Regions from separate parts of the Homo sapiens genome. Here region 1 is linked to region 2. Evidence: fine-mapped expression QTL. Tissue or cell type: adrenal gland. Region 2 holds a variant in brackets; the other region holds the start of a gene. All regions are shown on one strand. Distances are between the middles of the regions.

The links. PIP is the estimated chance that this variant, and not a neighbour inherited with it, causes the effect.
Region 1: HPGD starts here. The variant in region 2 is fine-mapped to the expression of HPGD in adrenal gland (GTEx, PIP 0.98).

Annotation. Positions count from the first base shown.
Region 1 is chr4:174,518,719-174,528,958 of GRCh38, reverse strand. It overlaps HPGD (15-hydroxyprostaglandin dehydrogenase), which reads left to right and starts at 6,471. Exons shown (of 7, transcript NM_000860.6): 1 at 6,471-6,600; 2 at 6,892-7,015. The coding sequence starts at 6,508. LOC105377548 (a long non-coding RNA gene) reads right to left here and starts at 6,346. Exons shown (of 7, transcript XR_007058492.1): 1 at 5,830-6,346; 2 at 5,538-5,574; 3 at 2,051-2,147. LOC124900870 (a long non-coding RNA gene) reads left to right here. Exons shown (of 2, transcript XR_007058494.1): 2 at 1-249. RefSeq lists an enhancer at 9,132-9,661.
Region 2 is chr4:174,599,088-174,609,863 of GRCh38, reverse strand. No RefSeq gene overlaps it. Among named protein-coding and RNA genes, the nearest start is that of HPGD, 82 kb to the right of the region's middle. The variant A/G (reference allele first, on the strand shown) is at 5,479.

The DNA of each region.
Region 1 (10,240 bases), 81 kb after region 2:
AGGTGATTAAGTTAAAATAAGACCATGCGGACTGTAATCCAATCTTGCTAGTGTCCTTATAAGAAGAGGAAATTTGGACACACACACAGACACACATTCACAGAGAAAAAGCCGTGTGAGGACGCAGCGAGAAAGTGACCATCTGAAAGCCAAGGAGAGAGGCCTGAAGAAACCAAACCTTCCAAAACCTTGATCTTGGACTTCCAGCCTCAGGAATTGTGAGACAATAAATTTCTGTTGTTTAAGCCACCAAGTCTATGGTATTTTGTTATAGCAGCCCTGGGAAACACCAAGAAAAGTTAGAAACATCTCACCATATTCTGGAGTTGAAAATCTATCTGTATCATTGTTCTTTCTCCATTTTCAACTAAGTATCTCTTAATCCAGAAATAAATATGAATATTAAGGAAGAAACTTAATAAGAATATTTCATTGATCACCAAATTTGTGCCAGGCATTGTACTGGGTGCTTCAAGGAATGTCATTTTGTTCCCCTTTTAACAGCTCAGGAAACAGGATCAGAGAGGTTACGTAATCACCCAAAGATCATACAATTAGCAAAGGGGATGAGACAGCATTTGAATGTAGATCTAAGAGAATTCAGTGGAGTAGACAAAGCAAAGGCTTTGGAGCCATGTGACTTGGATGTGTACCCAAGTTTGTTGCTAAGTTCTGGTATCAGTCCCTTGTCTTCCATGAGGCTCATTTTCTTCAACTGTAAAATGAGGATACTACTACTTACCTTGCAGGGTTAGCAAGAAAACTAAATGAAATAACTTACAAAGGAACAAAAACATAGTAGCTATTTAAAAAGTCAGCTCCTCTATTGTAGCTTGTGGTAGCAAAGTCAAAACAAGCCCCAGACCCCAGTACTAGCAGTAACTGTCTTATGCCAGCAGTGGTTTTTGTTTGTTTGTTTCAATAAAGAAAAAGCTTATTTTTGTATTGATTGATATGTCATTATTTTAAAATTCAGTAAACATGTCTATCAGGTGAGTGACTGGCCTGCCTCTGAGCCTGGGCCTGTGATTGAGTGCTTCTTGGAATGTCTGTGCTCACCAGTGTGCATGGGATAAAGGAAAAATCAATTTAAGACTAGCCTGGCCTAACAGGTCAGAACTGAGCTGACAGACACTAGGGTATGGGAAAATATATATTTGCTCAAAGAGTGCTGATTTCAGTCTATATTCAACTTGTATTTCTTAAATAAATCGCCATTCAGACAGGGCTAAAAGTACTGCTCAGCTACAGTTATCTCAAAATTAAGAGTTTAATTTTCAAAAAAGAAGTAATACTCAGTAGTCAGCCACACCTTGTGTCAAAGCCTCCTCCTTCATTTTCTAGATAAGTGACCTTGACCAGATTCCCCAAACTCCTTAAACGTGTTTTGCTCATCTATAAAATTACCACAATAATAACTACCTCACAGCTTGGTTGTAAATAATAAACGCAATTATATATGTATAGTGCTTAATGATAATAGCATTTATATAACATTTGCTATGTGCCGGTCACTGGTCTAAGCACTTGACTTGTATCTAACTTAGTATAGTCTTCACAACAACTTTATGAAATAGGTGCTGCTATTATCCTCATTTTACTGATGAGGAAGCTGAGATTCAGATAAATTAAGTAACTATCCAAAAGTCACAGAGCTAGTAGATGGTAGAGCTGGATTAAAACCCAAGCGGTCTGATTCCAGAGGCTGTATGTGTAGACAGTAAGAGATGGCTGCTTCTGAGTAAATGTTCAACACTCAACACTTGTAATTGCATTAAAGGAATAATCACCTCTCTTAACTTTGCATCATTGCGCTGCATTTGTTTTTAAGAGAACTTCGTTTGCAAAACTAAATCAAATACAGCTCTCTACATGCTAGGAAGCCATGTGTCAGTTAAAACATAGCCACTCTCCATGCCCTCAGGCCTTTGCCGTTTGATACCCGCTCCTCTTGAGTATCTTTGCCCTCCCACTTTCTTCAACTGTTTTCCTATGCAGCTATCAGATCTCTACCATGGAAATACCAATCACAGGATCATAAGGAGCTTACTCTCTCTGGATGTCTTCAAAGAGGGCTCTGTCTTTTTCTCTGGATCCCTTCCAGCTGACGCAGCACAGGGCCACCCAAAGTACACGCGCAATACACGCTGACCAAAGAAAAGTATATATAAATATGAGATATGTGTTCAAGAGAAGATGGAAAATTTTAATAGGATGGTGAGATTTCCCATATGTTGTGATTATCTTTTTATATAACAGAAATATATTGATAATGGGTTTTTGGAGAAGAATGTTCCCATATTTTATATTAAAAGTCTATTTTGAATTTAAAATATCTATAGAACATTATATGTGGTATATTATAAAACCAAAAAAGGGCTGCTTACCCAGTCAACATCTCCCCACTCCTCTGATTTTTATATGCATTTCTCAGCTTCTATGTTCAGGACATTACATCAGCTATATATTTCTGTCATCACAGTGATTTGTGTTATTAAAAACATAATTCTTAGCTAAAACAAAGTTAAATTTGAGATAAACCATCATCCATATAATTTTGTAAGAACATTCTTATTTATAGGCTATACAGGTGAGTGTCCCTTATCCAAAATGCTTAGGACTAGAAGTATTTCAGATTTCAGAATTTTGGGGGGATTTTGTATTTGCATGTACATAATGAGATACCTTGGGGCTGAGACCTAAGTCTAACCATAAAATTTATTTGTTTCACATACATATTATACATATAGCCTGAAAATAATCTTTTGCATTTTAATAATTTTGTACATGAAACCAAGTTTGTATCTAGTACTTACATGTGGAATTTTCCACTTGTCATGTTTCAGATTGTTGGAGCACTTTTTAACAAAAACTTTCATTTAAAAAAGATTATTGCTTAGGAGTGGGGGCCAGGGAGGCAGTGTATAATGACACTATCTTTGTTTTGCTAGATAAGTAAGTAATTTATGTCTATTTGGAGACTTTATGGCAATAAATGATCTAGTAGGTTAGCCAATTTGGTTGCCCTGATGGCTATCTACCAAAAAGATTTAATTTGCCCCGTGTTCTACATGATTTAGTCATCAGGGACATTTGGGAGGATTTTTTCTATTGGGAGATATATTAGGTTAGGCTGTGATAGAAAATAGAAACAAACATGCAAAGGCTCAACAGATAAGAAGTTTATATCTTGCTTACATCACAGTCCAGGAAGGCTCAGATTTTGGAGCAATTAGGATTTCAGATTTTTAGATCAGGGATGCTAAACCTGTGACTGACACACAGCTTCCTGGCATGTAAAGAAGGGCCACAAGAAAGACATGGGGCATGGAACACCTCAGATGTGATGCCCAGGAGTTTAGATATTTTAAGGATTTTAAACATGAGAATATCTAAACACGATCAGATCAGTTTTAGAAATTTTCCTAGGAGAAGTGCAGAAGGTAAATTGGATTTAAGAAATGTGGAGCAATTAAATGAAATAAGTCAGGTACAGAAAGATAAATATTGCATGTTCTTAGTCATATGTGAAAGCTAAAAAAAAACCTTATAGAAGTAGAGAGTAGAATTGTGGTTATCAGAGGCTGGGAAGGGTAAGGGGAGATGTGTATAGGGAGAGGCTGGTTTACGGATACGAAGAAACAGCTAGATTAGAGGATAAGTTCTAGTGTTTTCTAGAACACATGTAAGGTGAATATGGTTAACAATAATTTAGTGTATAGGTTCTAAAAGCCAGAAGAGAGGATTTTGAATGTACACAACACAAGCAATGATAAACATTTGAGTTAATAAATATGCTAATAATCAAATATCCTGATTTTGTCACTATACATTGTATACATGTATTGATATATCACTCCGTACATATATATCACTCTGTATATATAGATCACATAAATATGCACAGTTATTCCATGTCAACTAAAAAGGGAAAAAATCCTTCCTTACAAAGATCACTGTTTGGTAAGCAGTTTAATTCACTGTAATAAAAGCATCTCACAATGCGAAAAAAAGTGGGGGGCGTATTTGGAGGTAATGAGAAGCTAACTGCTGTTTGCTATCATAGGAGAAAATATGAATCTGGACAGTGGCAGTGGAAATTGAGAGGAGGGAAAGGGATGAAGGGGTACTAAGTTTTCTCTAGACCTCAGTCCTTGCTATCTACTAAAAAAACCTATTCTTCACATTTTTCTCTATCTCACATTTATTATTCATTAATATTTCAGAAGTAATATGTTGGGACTAATATTAATGTATTAATACTTTGTGGCAGGCTCTGTAATAGTGTTTAATATGCTTCACCTATTTTAATTTTCACCTTTTTTTTTTTTTTTAGAAAAGCTTACTTTATAATAAGGAATCTGAGACCCAGAGTTGAAGCAAATTGCCCAAGGTTACACAGCTGGTCAGTAGCAGACACAAGATCCAAACCCGGTTTGTCTGAATCCAGTGCTGACGTCCTTGTGCCTCACCTATCCGCCACCGCCAAACTGCTTCCTGTTCTTCCAGTTGTCACTATCCTTGACTCATTGCACTTTGACCTCAATCAATCTTCTTATCTTTTCTTAAAAGAAAAACATGTTTGCTGTCTAATCTTTTCAACTATTATCCAGTCCATTTCTCTTTCCATGTAACCTTGGTCTTCAGTCCATGACAATATCTATCTTCTCACAGATCATTTCAGCTGTTCAGTTTTTGTGCCTTCTAAATTTACTCACACTAAATATTGTCCTGAAAAATTCAAAATATTTCTCCATCCTTTATTCCCTGGTGCTCACCTGAGTATTTTGCATTATTAACTACTTCTTTCTTCTTGAAAGTATTTCTCCCACAAGAGCTGCAAACCTGTGTTCTCCCAGCATGTTGCCATTTTACCCCAGCAGTTCCTTTTCTGTCTTTTTTGCCAGTTCCTTCATCAGAAACTTCTATGTTCTGTGCATGCCATTAGAGGAGCTGAAGTTTTGTTTGGTTCCTTGTTTTCTTTTTGTCTTCTACTATTATTCCCTTTCAATATGACCCCTCAATTTACTCTTCATATTACAATTTTAATTATCATCCTAGAGTACAAATATCTATTTTCCTGTTTTAATTTCTCAAGATTTTGTCAAGACCTAATTTCAAATTAATGTTAAAGACATTTGCTTAGCGGCTTACCAACAACGCGACAAGACACATTTTACACAGTCTCCTCATACACTCCTTCCCTGCTGAGCCAGCCACCTTTCCCAGTAAAGAAGGTAAAGAAGATATAAAAATGATTCATTCTGCTGTTAGTGTCAGTCTTTTGCTCAACTCCCATTTCCCCCAAGTATTTAGATTTTTTTTTTCTTTAAGAAAATAAATGCCAGCTGGGCATAGTGGCTCATGCCTGTAATCTTAGCACTCTTTGGGAGTCCAAGGTGGGAGGGTCGCTTGAGCCCTGGAGATTGAGGTTGCAGCGAGCTGGGATTATGCCACTGCATTCTAGCCAAACAGACAGAGCGAGATCTTGTCTCAAGATTAAAAAAAAAAAAAAAAAAAAAAAGCCAACCACTTACGTTTACAGAATTAAAATTGCAGCCTGCCGCTGACAACCTGAGAAAAAGAGACAAAGTCAGTGGAATAGCCCTTGTTATTTATGCAAGTCCGCATACAGCTAGCCCTGGAGTTCCTGGAGAGCAAGGAACCTCTGTCCCAAACTTGACTCAGAGCTTCCAAAGTTGGTGTATTTCAACAAGTAAGCATTCCATTGAGCCAACAATTTGGTAGGCTACCAGCGGCTCTGGAGCGCCTGTTGATGATGACAGTTTTTGTGGGGGCATCTCAATATGACACACAATTGACACTGACCAGAAACACAGCGCCAAGGACACTCTAGTCCTAGCCATGAAATGTTATGATTCCAGGTTTTCAGGACAGAGCAGAGTCCACTTCTCATCTCCAGTATCCGTAAAAATTTGTCCAAAATGTAACTAAGAAAACACAATGATATTAGTTACTTCTGCTCCCCGTCACCCTCAACCCCACTGATTACGAGATGGGAACTCACACAAAACTTTGAGACAAAAGAGCAACAAGTTTGCTTTATTGTTTGCTTGTTTTGTTCCGGAGTCGGGGCCGGGAGGGAGTGCAGGAGGAGGGATCCAAGCTTCCAAGCCTCTGCTCCGCTCTCCTTCTATCCAGTTGGTCTTTAGGGCACTGAAGGAAACTCTTCTTCAGAAATAACCTTTTAACTTTTCTTCTGTCAGCTGCCTGCCAATCACGGAGCCAGAGGCTGAGGGGAGGCTTTGAGCCGGTCTGCGAGTCCGGAAGGCAAAGATCGCGAAGCTTGGCGCTCCAGAACGCTCAGGGGGCAGGTGACACAGTCGTGGGTTCCCCGGCGGGCGCTGGCTTGACAGTTTCCTCCCCGCCCACTGGCAGGGGAGCGCCCCGCCGGGCTGCACGCGCGCGCGCGCAGGGGGGCATAAAAGCCGCGGCCGCGCGGAGACGCGGAGCTCGCCCACCGCCCGCCCCAGCAGTGGCTGCACCATGCACGTGAACGGCAAAGTGGCGCTGGTGACCGGCGCGGCTCAGGGCATAGGCAGAGCCTTTGCAGAGGCGCTGCTGCTTAAGGGCGCCAAGGTAAGCCCGGCGCCCAGCCGCGGAAATTTCTCTGCCCACACACTCCGAGACTCGCCCCGCCGCCCGAGGTGCACTGGCGGAGACAGGGAGGCCGCGCCCGGCGTGCCCACTTTGCCACTTCCAAAATTTGCTGAAGCTGAGGCTGTGAGCACACCTCAGAAGTGGCTGGGAGGGAACCCAAACCTAATTGCCAAATTTCAGGTCCAGGAGGGGAGCCTCTTGTGTGTTTATTGTTTGTCCGTCTATTTCGTGAGCTGCGCAGGCCCGCGATTCCTCTCCTCTTGTCTATAGGTAGCGCTGGTGGATTGGAATCTTGAAGCAGGTGTACAGTGTAAAGCTGCCCTGGATGAGCAGTTTGAACCTCAGAAGACTCTGTTCATCCAGTGCGATGTGGCTGACCAGCAACAACTGAGAGGTAAGACAGGGGAATCAATCTGTCAACTGGGAACGTGCTCTCAACAAGCAACAACCTGAAGGCAGCCCGGCCAGGGGGCCCTGGGTGCCGCCTCCGCTGCCTCCTCGAGAGCAGCTACCTTGAAGCTCCAAAAGACAGTTTGGACTGATACGTTTCCTTCTGACAGCCCAATAGCTGTAAAACCGAAAGAAAGGCAAGACTGCTGGAGAAATCCTTTTATTGTAGTCATTTGGCAGCATTAATGTAATCAAAATTCCTTTATGTATTCAAAGACAGTGCTGCTGCAGTAATTATTAAATGATTGAAATTGCAGACAAAACTTGGAAAATTAAAGTAGGTTAAGTAAGGTACTGTTGACAAACAACTTCTCCCAGAAAGCTGGAGTCCAATGACAATCAAATGTGGCAGTGTTTTTCGTTTAAACATATCAGAATACAAGTTCAAGGAGCATCATCACAGAAGTGCTAGATGCTTTTGACCATATGTTTTCTCCGGCTTTTTCCCCAATGAGACAGTACTTTAAAATAATAATAATAGTAATCATAATAAAGTATACAATGTTAGAATTGTAGTAGAAACATCTCTATCAGCCTTTCCTCAATGCTTTCCTGTTTCCGGCTACTCACTTAAAATAGACCAATCTACTTGTGAAGTATCAGGGACAATATTGGCATACACAATAAACAGCTTTGATTATAAAGCTGTTTTTTTTTTTTTTGTACATCTATTGGAGAACTTGAGAGTGCCCCAATAAACTTACAGGAAACAAAAATTCTGGAGAAAAACTAGAAAAGTAAAATATTTGTATTTCACAAAGTTTTATTCAAAGAGACTGAGTAAATTGTAAGGCACTTTTTAATCAAGGGGTCTGAAAACTTTTGCAAATCTTATTCCAGTGCTCCTGTTCTTAAAGGGACATCAAATGTACATTTATTTTAAAATTTTAAAATATTCTGTAAGAGAATGAAAATGAACTGACGTGTTAGAAGGAAGTGGTGTACCAACAGTTAAGAGAAATTGTAAAGGAAATTACATAACTGAAATCTGAAAATGCTAATAAAGACCTATAACACAGATGACAAGCATGAGCAGAACAGATTTGTAAACACAATGCAAGAGGAACATATTGTACCAGAGGACAATTATGTTGATTGCACATGATATTTTGGATCAAGGATAGAGCCAGGTCAGATCTCAACATTCATGCTGATGGCATAAGGAACAGTATAAACAATCTGAAAGCCATTTCTGTCTCAATTTATATAGTTTCATAAATGACATTTAACTACAATTGTTTTTTTCCCAGTATTTAAAATTAATACCTTGGCTATAAACTCATTCCTTAAGGATAAATGATTGTGGAGGAGGAAAAATACTCAGACACATAAGTGACCCGGGAAGGCATGTTGGTCATGAGAAATCCACATGTTGTCTGGACATGAGCATTTGCTTGCATCTAAAGGAAACATGACATTGATTCTTCCAGTTTCAGGATTTAATGTTGCCTATAACTTTTAAAATTGTTTAGACAGTGTGGAAATTATAAAAATATGAGATGAAAAGTTTCTTGGAGATAATCTAAACATAACTTATTTTCCAAATGAACAAATCACAGCCAAGAGAGTTTAGGTAAGTTACAAAGAGTACCATAGCATATAAATGTCAGCAAGAGGTAGACTGTCTGTTGCTTGAGCCTGGAATTCAATGGGATGTCAGAAAACAAGATGGTATACTATACATTGGTAAGGGCAGAGTATAAGGAATACGGTGGAGAACAGAATGAGGAAAGAAAATTAAAGCGGCAATTAGACATACATATTTAACACCCTCATTTTCCAAAAGGTGAAGGTTGTTTCTGTGGAGTTATGAAGAGTTAGAACATACTCAGAATGGAAGGAGAAAAAAAAAATACTGGGGGACATTTTCTGGACCCAATTTGAGATTTTAAGAAACATTTTTAAGATTCCATGAAAAAAGGCCGGGTGCAGTGGCTTCACGCTTGTAATCCCAGCAGTTTGGGAGGCCGAGGCGGGCGGATCACGAGGTCAGGAGATCGAGACTTTCACTCGCGTCTGTGTGAAGAGACCACCAAACAGGCTTTGTGTGAGCAACAAGGCTGTTTATTTCACCTGGGTGCAGGCTGGCTGAGTCGGAAAAGAGAGTCAGCAAAGGGAAATAGGGGTGGGGCTATTTTATAAGATTTGGGTAGGTAAAGGAAAAAGGGGGGTTGCCCGCTGGTGGGCAGCAGTGGGGGTCACAAGGTGCTCAGTGGTGGAGCTTTTTGAGCCAGGATGAGCCAGGAGATGGAATTTCACAAGGTAATGTCATCAGTTAAGGCAAGGACCGGCCATTTTCACTTCTTTTGTGGTGGAATGTCATCAGTTAAGGCAGGAACAGGCCATTTAAGTATCACTACTTTTGTGATTCTTCAGTTACTTCAGGCCATGTGGATGTATATGTGCAGGTCACAGGGGATATAATGGCTTAGCTTGGGCTCAGAGGCCTGACAGAGATCATCCTGGCTAACACGGTGAAACCCCGTCTCTACTAAAAATACAAAAAATTAGCCGGGCGTGGTGGTGGGCGCCTGTAGTCCCAGCTACTCTGGAGGCTGAGGCAGGAGAATGGCGTGAACCCGGGAGGTGGAGCTTGCAGTGAGCTGAGATCAGGCCACTGCACTCCAGCCTGGGGGACAGAACGAGGCTCCGACTCAAAAAAAAAAAAATCCATGAAAAATAAACAGTTTGTGTTTGTTGTTCTTCCATTCCCGTACAGTGAGTGTAAAAGGTACATATTAGGAAATCTTGAAAATGTTTTTAGTAAACAACTAGCATAGTAATTTATCTATATGGCAACTGATTAATCCATGTCTTCCCCAATATGTCTGGTGGTTGTTAATGATTATATGAATTTATTTCAATCAAAATAAAGCTTATGCTGACCTACTTTTTTTAAGGACTTGATATGTTGGTCTGGACACCTGAGAATATATTTCCGTCATGTAGAAAAACAACCACAATTTTTATCCATAGTGTAAAATAATAGAAGTAGAATGAATGATCAAAGGCCCGGGGAAACAGTTTAAATCAATTAGAACTCTGTCAAAGGCTGCTTTGAGAAACAATAGACATGTGATTGGACAGTGTAATGAAAGACATTCAGGCCTCAGAATCCATGCCAACTTTATCCTGTTTGAACATAGTTTTATACAAACTAGTAATCCTA
Region 2 (10,776 bases):
TAGGCCAGGCATAGTGGCTGATGCCTGTAATCCCAGCACTTTAGGAGACAGAGGCGGGCAGATCATCTAAGGTAAGAGTTTGAAACCAGGCATGTCAATATGACAAAACCCTGTCTCTACTAAAAATACAAAAATTAGCTGGGCGTGGTGGAAAATGCCTGTAATCCCTGCTACTCAGGAGGCTGAGGCAGTAGAATTGCTTGAATCTGGGAGGTGGAGATTTCAGTGAATCTAGATCTCACCACTGCACTCCATCCAGCCTGGGCTACAGAGCAAGACACAGTCTCAAAAAAAAAAAAAAAAAAGAGAAAGAAAACGTTGCTAGCATCAGCCCACAGCGAATAGAACTTGAAGGAATAAAAACTTTTATGATCTGAAAATAAGTTGAAGAAGAGCATTACTATTTCGCACTTTCTAAAAGAGAAGAGAAAACAGAAAACATCAAGAAACAATACAAGTTGAACTTTGGGTTTAAAACAAATTAAAATCTCTTATAATTCATTAAGAGTAAATCAATCCTTTAAGAAAATTTTATTGTTCTAATCAATTCTTTTGTGTATAAGTGTTTTTATCATCAAATTTAATCTCTAGAAAGACCACTATAAATCCCTTTAATTATAGACAACTTGATCATATTAACTTTTTTTGGGTTTTGTTTGTTTGTTTGTTTTTTAGACAGAATGTTTTCCTACAATATATTTTTATTGGAAAATACCCAAATAATGAAATATATATTATTTAATTTAATATAAATTTTGATTCTAAATTATGACAAGTTTGTTTACAAGTGTTTATCCCATTACATTTACCTAATTATTTTATTTTAATCATTTACCAAGATTATGAAAACTGTGATAGGCATCATTTAAAGTTATGAAACTCCCCATTGCAAAATTATAACTGAGACATTAAAAAAGATATGACCTCACTGACTCCATCTTGCTGCTAACCTCCAAGCTGTCCTTGTTCATTCTTGGGCATAGGCTGAACTAACTTTGGAAGGAACTTAGTTTATAGTTTAGCTTTGAAAAAAGATGGTAACAGTCCTCTTACAAACAAACCTCCTTATTGCCTGTGGTCTGGACTGCCTAAAGCCAGAAGATTATGGGTTGTGGTAATTTTATTAAATAATTTGAGATGTAGCTATTTTCATTAAACCAATATCAATATCTTATCTATTAAAAATTACACAAGAAAGATCATTCCATTTTGGGCTGTGTTTATAGTTTTATAAACCCTATGCCAAATTTTGACACCTTATAGTATTTGGCAGGGATAAGTATGCAATTGCTTGATAATAATTTTTAAGACATTTCTAATACTACTTTACTAATAATTTTAAGCTACCTTATTTATTAAAGATTTTACTTAAGTCACATAAAATTGAAAAAGCATTTGACTAGTCTTTCCTTTTTCTCCGATGAAGTATTTGATTTAAGGACTTTTATTTTTCTTGAAGCCAATTAATAAGAGCTCTTTTATATATTTTAGTAGTGAAATATTGTGTAGAGAACACACAAATACATAGATGTGTTAGGCATAATGATAAAAATACACTTTATGAATTCCTACGACCTCCTTTTTTTTTCCGTATCTTAGACTTGCAAACTCTTGATAAACTGATTCATTATCCTGGCAGTTGTCAGGTAAACAGCCCTAAATTTGCATATTGAAGGAAACAACTCTTAGATTAAAAATCAGATTAGCAAAATTTACATCTCAAGGTACAGAGAAAAAAGGTCTGGTGATGCTACAGGGAGATTAAAGATAGATGCTAAATCAAACATAAAATTGTAGAAATCTATCACAGGATTGCATGAGGAGAACAATTTTATTTAGATAGGGACTATCTATCTTCTAACTGGATCTCTGAACTCTGGGCAGAGTCCACACTGAATCCTGGATCTCTAAAAAGGGAGAATTATTATGAAGCTAGACCTCGTGATGCTTTTACAGTGCACTTTAAAAAAATTTTTTTAAACAAAAACATTTGTTTAAACTTCACTTTCTTAAAAACCCAAGTATAGCCTATGTTGCAATAACTATTTTAGTCAAAAAATCAGGTAACACAAGTATCTAAACTTTACTTCCTTAAAAACCCAAGAGTAACCTCTATTGCAATAATTATTTTAGTCAAAAAATCCGGTAACATAATACAAAAGCAAGCAGTTTAAGAGCTGAGATGAACTTGTCTGTTTGGAAAACACTCTTGGAGTTCCATAAGTAAAAACAGTGGTTTTTCCCCAAAAGAGAGTCTGGCACCTTCTCCATTTTCCTTAAGGAACCCCAGGCTATTATAAACTATTTTAGGTCCCTCATGCAGCACAGGGTGCAAGAGAAAGGAGAGACAGCAGAAGTAAATGAAGGAAACATAATTCAGTCAAATGAGATGAAAAAGACAAAGTCCTAAGAGAAAAAAAAAAAAACAAAACACACACGCACACAAAATAAAAAAGGTGAAGGCCTTTTAAATACAAAAACACACACATGCAGACATACGCACACACATTTTGGATGTTAGTTTTTAATTAAGCTGACTTTTAACCACTGAGCTCCTTCAAAAAAAATGTTTTAATCTATTTACCATATTTCAGCTCGGACAAATTGCTGCTGTTTCAGAAGTGCCAAGTATCCAAACAGAAAGGGCTTGATTTAGGCACCAAACCCAGGCTGTCATGGTGGAAAAATAGAAGGCAGAACTCTTAGCTATGGAACTGCAGCATGGGGCAACAGCCATTGCTCTTTCAGTTTGGCCTGGCTAGCAAAAAGGTGGTATTGCTATGTAAATAAAGCCCCTCGAGTAATCAAAAGCAGAATCTCTCCTTTCTGTTTTCCTTTTGCTGTATGTTTTTCTCCCCCCGCCCCCGACCACACCACCTTGTTGTTGTCATTGTTTTCTTATGGGAATTTAGCCACTTCAGAGGCCTTGTTCCTCATAATTTGGAACTTTCCTTTGTATTTGATCAAGTCAGAGTTGATCAAACCCAATGGAGAAAATATGGAAATAACAACAAAAACAGAAACAAGCAAACAACAACAACAAAAATTAAGCAAAACAAACAATGGCGCAACTTGTAAGATTACGGAGTGTGTTAATGGTAAGGTGAAATTAAGATCAGCTGGTTTGTCTTGGCTAAAATCTTAACTTTAGCCAAGACAAACACCAATTCAGTTACTCACCCAGGGATAGGTCTCAGACTTAAGACTGCTCTCTACCATCCTAGAAGCAGGAAAATCTCAAATTTGTCTTTCCTCTTGGAAGTGAGTTCAAACTCCATACAGGAGTTACCTGCCTTCCATTGTCATGGAAGCAGGAAAAACTTGCCTTCCTTGTTTTGGAAACAAGTAAAACTCCAAGAAAAAAAAAAAAGAGTTGTACAGCAATAAACTTTAGATCTTGACCAAATATTGGAAGATCAGGGATGCTCTGGAGGGAGCACTTCCAGGCCTCAGCAAATTGTCCTATTGGTTAGACCCACAAAGATAGCTCAAGCTGGTACCAAGCACCAATAGGAGATTTGTCAAAGGTCAGGGGCACCTTCACTCAGAATCCCTTCGTGGTTACCAAAATGTGAACTGCAAATATCTGAGACAGGTCTCAGTTAATTTAGAAAGTTTATTTTGCCAAGGTTGAGGATGCATGCCCATGACACAGACTCAGGAGGTCCTGATGACTTGTGCCCAAGGTGGTCAGGGCACAGCTTGGTTTTATACATTTTAGGGAGACATGAGACATCAATCAACATATGTAAGATGTACATTGGTTCCATCTGGAAAGGTGGGACAACTCAAGCAGAGAAGGGGCTTCCATTCATAGGTAGGTGAGAGACAAACAGCTGAATTCTTTTGAGTTTCTGATTAGCCTTTAAAAAGGAGGCAATCAGATATGCATTTATCTCAGTGAGCAGAGGGATAACTTGAATAGAATGGGAGGCAGGTTTGCCCTAAGCAGTTCCCAGCTTGACTTTCCCCTTTAGCTTAGTGATTTGGGGGCCCCAAGATTTATTTTCCTTTCACAGAATCCTAGCAATTATCCACTGGCACATCTGACTTTTAGCATAATTAAAGAGGGGAGCAGTGAGACTGTGGGCACGCACTAGGCTACAGTGGCAGTGACTGGCAAAGCCTGCACTAACCCCTGGGCCGTCTCACTTTCTCAGTACCACATTACTTTTTATTCATATATTTTACTGTAGGCCCAGTGGAGAGTAAGATGGAAACACTGAAAAGTCACTGAAAAGTACTAGCTTTGGGAAACTGGCTGTTGAAGCTCTGAATGAGCAGAGACACTAGGCCCTGAAGAGAAAGTTAAAGGAGGATAGCCGATTCCACACAGGGCACATATGATATGTTTTCTGAAGAAAGAAAGTTAATATGTCGATTTTTCTGTAGGACTTAAGAGTCTGGAGCTTGAGAGAAGTGTAAATTAAAGATATATATTTGAAGAACACTAAGCTTATAGAATAACAAGCTTTATACACCATCTGGCCTATAAAGCCACAAGAGTGGAAAAGATTGCTCAAAATCAACAATCCTTTTTACATTAAAATAATATGAGCAGATCAGATTTTAAAATATTAATTTTACTAGATATACAATTGTGGGCTGGGAAATATCAAAATAGTTTCAGGAATACCAATAAGTATGCCTTTAATATCAAAAATTAAATTCAATAGTTACTGAAAACCACCAGTAGAATAAGTGAGTTCAGATGAATATTTAAAGTCATATCTTTGGATTCCCACAAAAAAACATGTAGTTTTCTATCAGCGACTTCTAACACTTTATGGTACATGTCTTCTTTTTTTTTTTTTTTTTGAGATGGAGTCTTGCTCTATTGGCAGGCTGGAGTGCAGTGGCGCAATCTCGGCTCACTGCAACCTCCGCCTCCTGGATTCAAGCAATTCTCCTGCCTCAGCCTCCTGAGTAGCTGGGACTACAGGTGCGCACCACCATGCCCGGCTAATTTTTGTATTTTTAATAGAGACGGGGTTTCACCATGTTGGCCAGGATGGTCTCCATGTCTTGACCTCATGATCCGCCCTCCTCAGCCTCCCAAAGTGCTGGGATTACAGGCGTGAGCCACTGCGCCCAGCTGGTACATGTCTATTTTTATTTTATAGTTCCTAGCCTACTATTTCAAGGAATGCAAGTTAGGAATTCAATTCAATAAACATTAATTCAACTGCTAGTATTTGCCAAGTATTGGAATACAAGATAAAAAGTATAGCAGCTGTATATAAGCCTTCTTTGTTTCATGAACTAATTTTTTGTGTGTCTACTAGTTTCTAGACACTGTCCTGGCATTAATATAATAGTAAATAAGAGAAACCCAACCTTCAAGTGTTCACATCCTAGTAGGTTTTTAGTCTCAGTTGTTTAACGTATGTTGAATCAGCACAGGAAGATAAGTGTTCTTACGTAATGGTTACTTAGGCAACCTGACAGCCTGAGTTAAGTAGCCCATCCACCTTGAAG[A/G]GCACATTGCTTAGTGATTTGAACATCTGTGTCCTCCAAATACAGGAAGGAGGCTATCATTTAGTCAGTATTATATAATGCTGACAAATTCTTAGTAAACATTCATGTACTCCCACACCGTATAAAAACTTCTTTGGTTTCCCTTTGGAACTAACAGTGTTGTAATTCCGATATGCATCTACAGTAGTTAATCCTTTACAGCCTAGATTTGTATCTTCCCCTTAATGTATAAATAGCTTTCAAATTTTAGCATTAGCATAATTTTCAAAGTTCTCTGAGGTGAAAATCTGCCCAGTTTATTTTATGTAAAATTGTGATATCCTAACCTATGTGAGACTTCCTCTTTATAGTCCTGGAATTCTAATTCCAGTATTAGAGTCTTTTCTGGCCACTCATTCAATCTTTTGACCAAATTTTCAGGGGAAAATTGACATTACTGTTAGAAGGTATTTGGCATTTTGTACCAAGTCACAATACATATGTTCTTCTCCCCTTTCTTTGAAGTCCAAAATCATCAAACCTCATTATCGTCCTAGAAAATAGAATGGAACAGGTATTGTATTAACTTGAGACAATAGTGAATGGAATATTAGAGGTTAAGATATGCAAAGAGTCCTTAAAAGATTAAATACTAAGGACAATATTAAGACATGCTAAATAGGCCAGGTTTGGTGGCTCATGCCTTTATTCCAGAACTTTGGGAAGCTGAAGCAGGGGGATTGCTTGAGCCCAGGAGTTCAACCAGCCTGGGCAACATAGTGAGACCCCCATCTCTACAAAACAAATACATAAATAAATAACTAGCCAGTCATGATGGTGCGTGCCTGTGGCCCCAGCTACTCAGGAGGTCAAAGTGGGAGAACTGCTTGAGCGCAAGAGTTTGAGACTGCATTGAGCAATGACGGTGCCATGGCACTCCAGCCTGAGTGACACAGTGAGACACTATTTCTTAAAAAAAAAAAAAAAAAAAAAAAATTAAAACTTAAAATGTGCTAAACAGTAAATTCCTTTAAGTCCACAAACTGTACAACAAATTATCACTCTGAGGGATTATCATCTCTTCTGGCTCATGAATTCTGTTTTTGAGGGAAGGATTTTTCCCTAGTTGAGGCATATCAGAGTTCATTTTGTAATTTTTCATAACTCTGTATTATTTATTTCATTTTTTACCAAAACACACAGGGTTTGATCTAGGTCCTGCTGCTCACTGCACAGAAAGCGAATCACTGAGATGACAGATATTGCCAAGGAAGAAGGCTTTAATTAGGTGCTACAGGAGATGGGAGCTCAGTCTCAGATCCATCTCCCTGACTGACTAAAACTAGGAGTTTATATAGCAAGAAAGAAATATAACAATGTTCAAGAACTAGGAAAGGGCTAGGAAGCAATCATAATGAATGAGGGGCCTGTCATCTCATTGTGAGGATGTGGTGATCTGGTGAGATTCGGTTTTTTGATGCTTTTTTAAAGAGGCCAGAAGGTCCTTTCCTCAAAGAAAACAAATGTAAGCTTGAAGCTTTAAGATCGGAAAGGTTAATTTCTATGTTTATCCAAAAGAACAGTCTATGGGACTATTGGGGCAGTTTCATATGTTTGTAGTACTGAGGAACTTTACAAGATTCCTGCTTCGGTGGCACTACCTTCATTCAGTATAACAAAGTCCAGATTCCTTAGTGGGTTATTTCTGCAGTGGAGGAAAAGGGATTGTTTGTTTCCTCGTATTTTGTTTGTCTTTTGTAATACATGAACTACTCAAAAATTTATCCCTTTGCTACATTCTTTTTGACCATCTAATTTCTAAGGGTCACTTCTTTCTGTTTTGATTTTTTCTCCTACAGAGGCTATAGGTTTCAAAAACTGTCACTTCACATCATACATGCTGTTAAGTCCCTTCCCTGCAAACCATGCTCTGGTCTTTTCTCCTGCAGACTTACTTTTGGAAGTTGGTAAGGTCAATCTTATGGCCATCATTTTCTCTCTCCTCTCTTCCCATAGTTTTTCATGACCTGTTTTTTCTTGCCACAAAGACTTACAGTAGGATAGGACAGCAAGAGATTGCTTACTGGACATTTACAATTTTATTCTTAAAATTTCAAGTTATTTTGAGATATGAGCATTCTCTGTCTTTACATAATGCTGAGGTCATTGTTTTGGGATAGGTTTATTTTGTTTTTGCTTTTCTTACCTTCTTGTTTTTCTGTGTTATTTTGGGGGGAAAAGTTGGGAGACAGGAACCTAAGCAACTACCATTGTCTTTAGCTATCCTGAAATCCAAGGATATTCTTATCAACAAATAGTGTTTAAACAATGGGGTATATGCCAGGAGAGAAAAAAAATGAACTTTAACTCCTTCTTCGTACCATGCACAGAAATTAATTCAAGGTGGATCATAAAACCAAACACAAAGTCTAAAACTAGAAATCTTTTGGAAGAAATCATAGGATAATATCTCCCTGACCTGAGGTTAGACAAAGATTTCTCAAGAATGACATAGAGTGCAATAACCATAAAAGAAAAGAATTAATGGACTTCATCAAAATTTAAAACTTCTGCTCATCAAAAGACTCTATTAAAATGAACATGCAAATTTTAAAATTTGAATTTTAAAATGATTTGAAAAATTATTTCAAAAGGCTGTATGAATGGCTAAAAGGCACCGTTTAAAATTATTCAGCCTCATTAATTATCAGGGAAATGCAAATGAAAGCCACAATGAAATGCTACAATACATGGATGAGAATTGCTAAAATTAAATACCTGACAGTATATTAGGTTGGGGAGCAACTGGAAAACTCATATGTTGCTGGTTGGAATGTAAAATGGTACAACAAACTTGGGGAAAGGTTTGGCAGTTTCTTATAGATTAAATATATACTTACAATATGGTCGAGCAATTGCATCCCTACTAATTTAGCCAAGAGAACTAATTTAGCCAAGAGAACAATACCTTGTACAAAAATGTCCATAGCAGCTTTATTTATAATAGCTGAAAACTATAGACAACCAAAATGTCCATCAGCACGACAAGGCATAAACAAATTTTGGTGTATTCATTCAATGGAAAAATTCTCGGGAAAAAAAATAAAAGAAAAAAGAACCTACCATTACATTCAAGGACATAGAAGAATCTCTCAGACATTATCTGTAGCAAAAGCCAGGCACAAAAGAGTACATACTCTGTAAGTCCATTAATATAAACAGTTCTATTATAAGCAAATCTGTGGTTTGGGAAAAAATCATAACATTGGCTGTCTCTAAAGGTTGGGAGAAGGGGTGGTAATTATCGGAGAAGAGAGTATGAGGGCATTTTCCAGAGATAATCACATCCTATTCTGATGGGATCGTGGTTTCATATGTGTACACGTTTGTCAAAACTCACAAAACTGCAGGCTTTTATGTTTGGGGAGTTTCTCCCCTTAAAGAAATAGGTGGAGACTGCAATAAGTATTATAGTATATAATTTGTGTATACTACAATTTCTATGGTGACTATAAAACACAAAAAATAACAAAAACTTAAAGGAAAAGAAATCTTCCATAGAATAGAAATGCTTGGATTATGTATTTGGCCTAGTCTCAAGCATGTTTTATATGCAGCAAGCTCTTGTGTTAGCATGCATTCTATCATATGATTATGGTAAAGCTGGTGGAAATAGTTAAAGGAATGTTAGCATAGACCACCAAACTTGCTGTAGCAAAAGTTTTTGCCTTCAAATGTATTCTCATGCTTTCAAGTTGTGACTATTAACAGTAATCAGATGGAACTCAAAAATTACTCACAAAATTGATTCTTATTACTTAAGCATTTGTCATCCTTGAGGAGAGAATGGGAGGAGCTGGGACAAAGCCTAGAATTCCATTATTCACTTTTGTTTGGTTAGCACTTGTTGGATACTAAATGTTTTAAACTTGTTCCTGTTGAACAATGTTGCATAGTAAAAACACAAACCGTAATTGGCAGAGAAAACTAAGAAAGCCCCCAAAACAAGGGCCCACGGCATTTAGTTTTAGATACACTGCCTGAGTTAATTTAAAAAGGAAAGAATGAAGCCAGTATCCTAGTTTGAACAGTCCTATCATATTATCATTTCATGAGAACCTGGCATTACATTATGAAAAAGCCAAAGTCTAAAGTTGTAACTTGTTTTAAAGTAGCTAATCATGTTCATGTATTTTTAAAAGATAACTTTGCCCTGATTACTATAAATTGACTATTTTTGTTTCCTCATAAGAAATAATTTAAAGAGAATCTGAAAGACAACGTATGGACTGGGAAAGTTTTTTTTATTTATTTATTTTTACTTTGTATTTTTTTTGAGAGGGAGTTTTGCTCTTGTTTCCCAGGCTGGAGTGCAATGGCGCCATCTTGGCTCGCCACAACATCCGCCTCACAGGTTCAAGCAATTCTCCTGCCTCAGCCTCCCGAGTAGCTGGGATTACAGGCATGCACCACCACGCCCAGCTAATTTTGTACTTTTAGTAGAGATGGGGTTTCTCCATGTTGAGGCTGGTCTCGAACTCCTGACCTCAGGTGATCTGCCCGCCTCGGCCTCCAAAAGTGCTGGGATTACAGGCGTGAGCCACCGTGCCTGGCCTGGACTGGGAAAGTTTTTATAAACCACATATCTGACAAGGGCCTAGCATCCAAAATTTATAAAGAACTCTTACAACTCAATAGTAGAAAAACAAAAAAACCCGATTTATAAATGGGCAAAGAAGGCCAGGTGCTGTGGCTCATGCCTGTAATCATAGCACTTTGGGAGGCCGAGGCAGGCAGATCACGAGGTCAGGATATCAAGACCATCCTGGCTAACACCGTGAAACCCCGTCTGTATTAAAAATACAAAAATTAGCTGGGCGTGGTGGCACATAACCGTAGTCCCAGCTACTCGGGAGGCTGAGGCAGGAGAATCTCTTGAACCTGGGAGGTGGAGGTTGCAGTGAGCTGAGATCATGCCACTGCACTCCAGCCTGGGTGGCAGAACAAGATTCTGCTAAAAAAAAAAAAAAAAAAAAATGGACAAAGTACCTGAACAGACATTTCTCCAAAGATACAAAAATGTCCAACAGGTCTATGAAAAGGTGCTCATACCAATCAAAGGGAAATGCAAATTAAAACTATTATGAGATATCACTTCACACTCGTAAGGATGGCTATTATCAAAAAGAGAAGCAATAACAAATGTTGGTGAGGATGCTGAGAAAAGGGAACCCAAATGCACAATTGGTGGAAATGTATGTTGGTAGGGCCATTATGGAAAAGAGAATGGATGCTCCTAAAGAAATTAAAAATAGAACC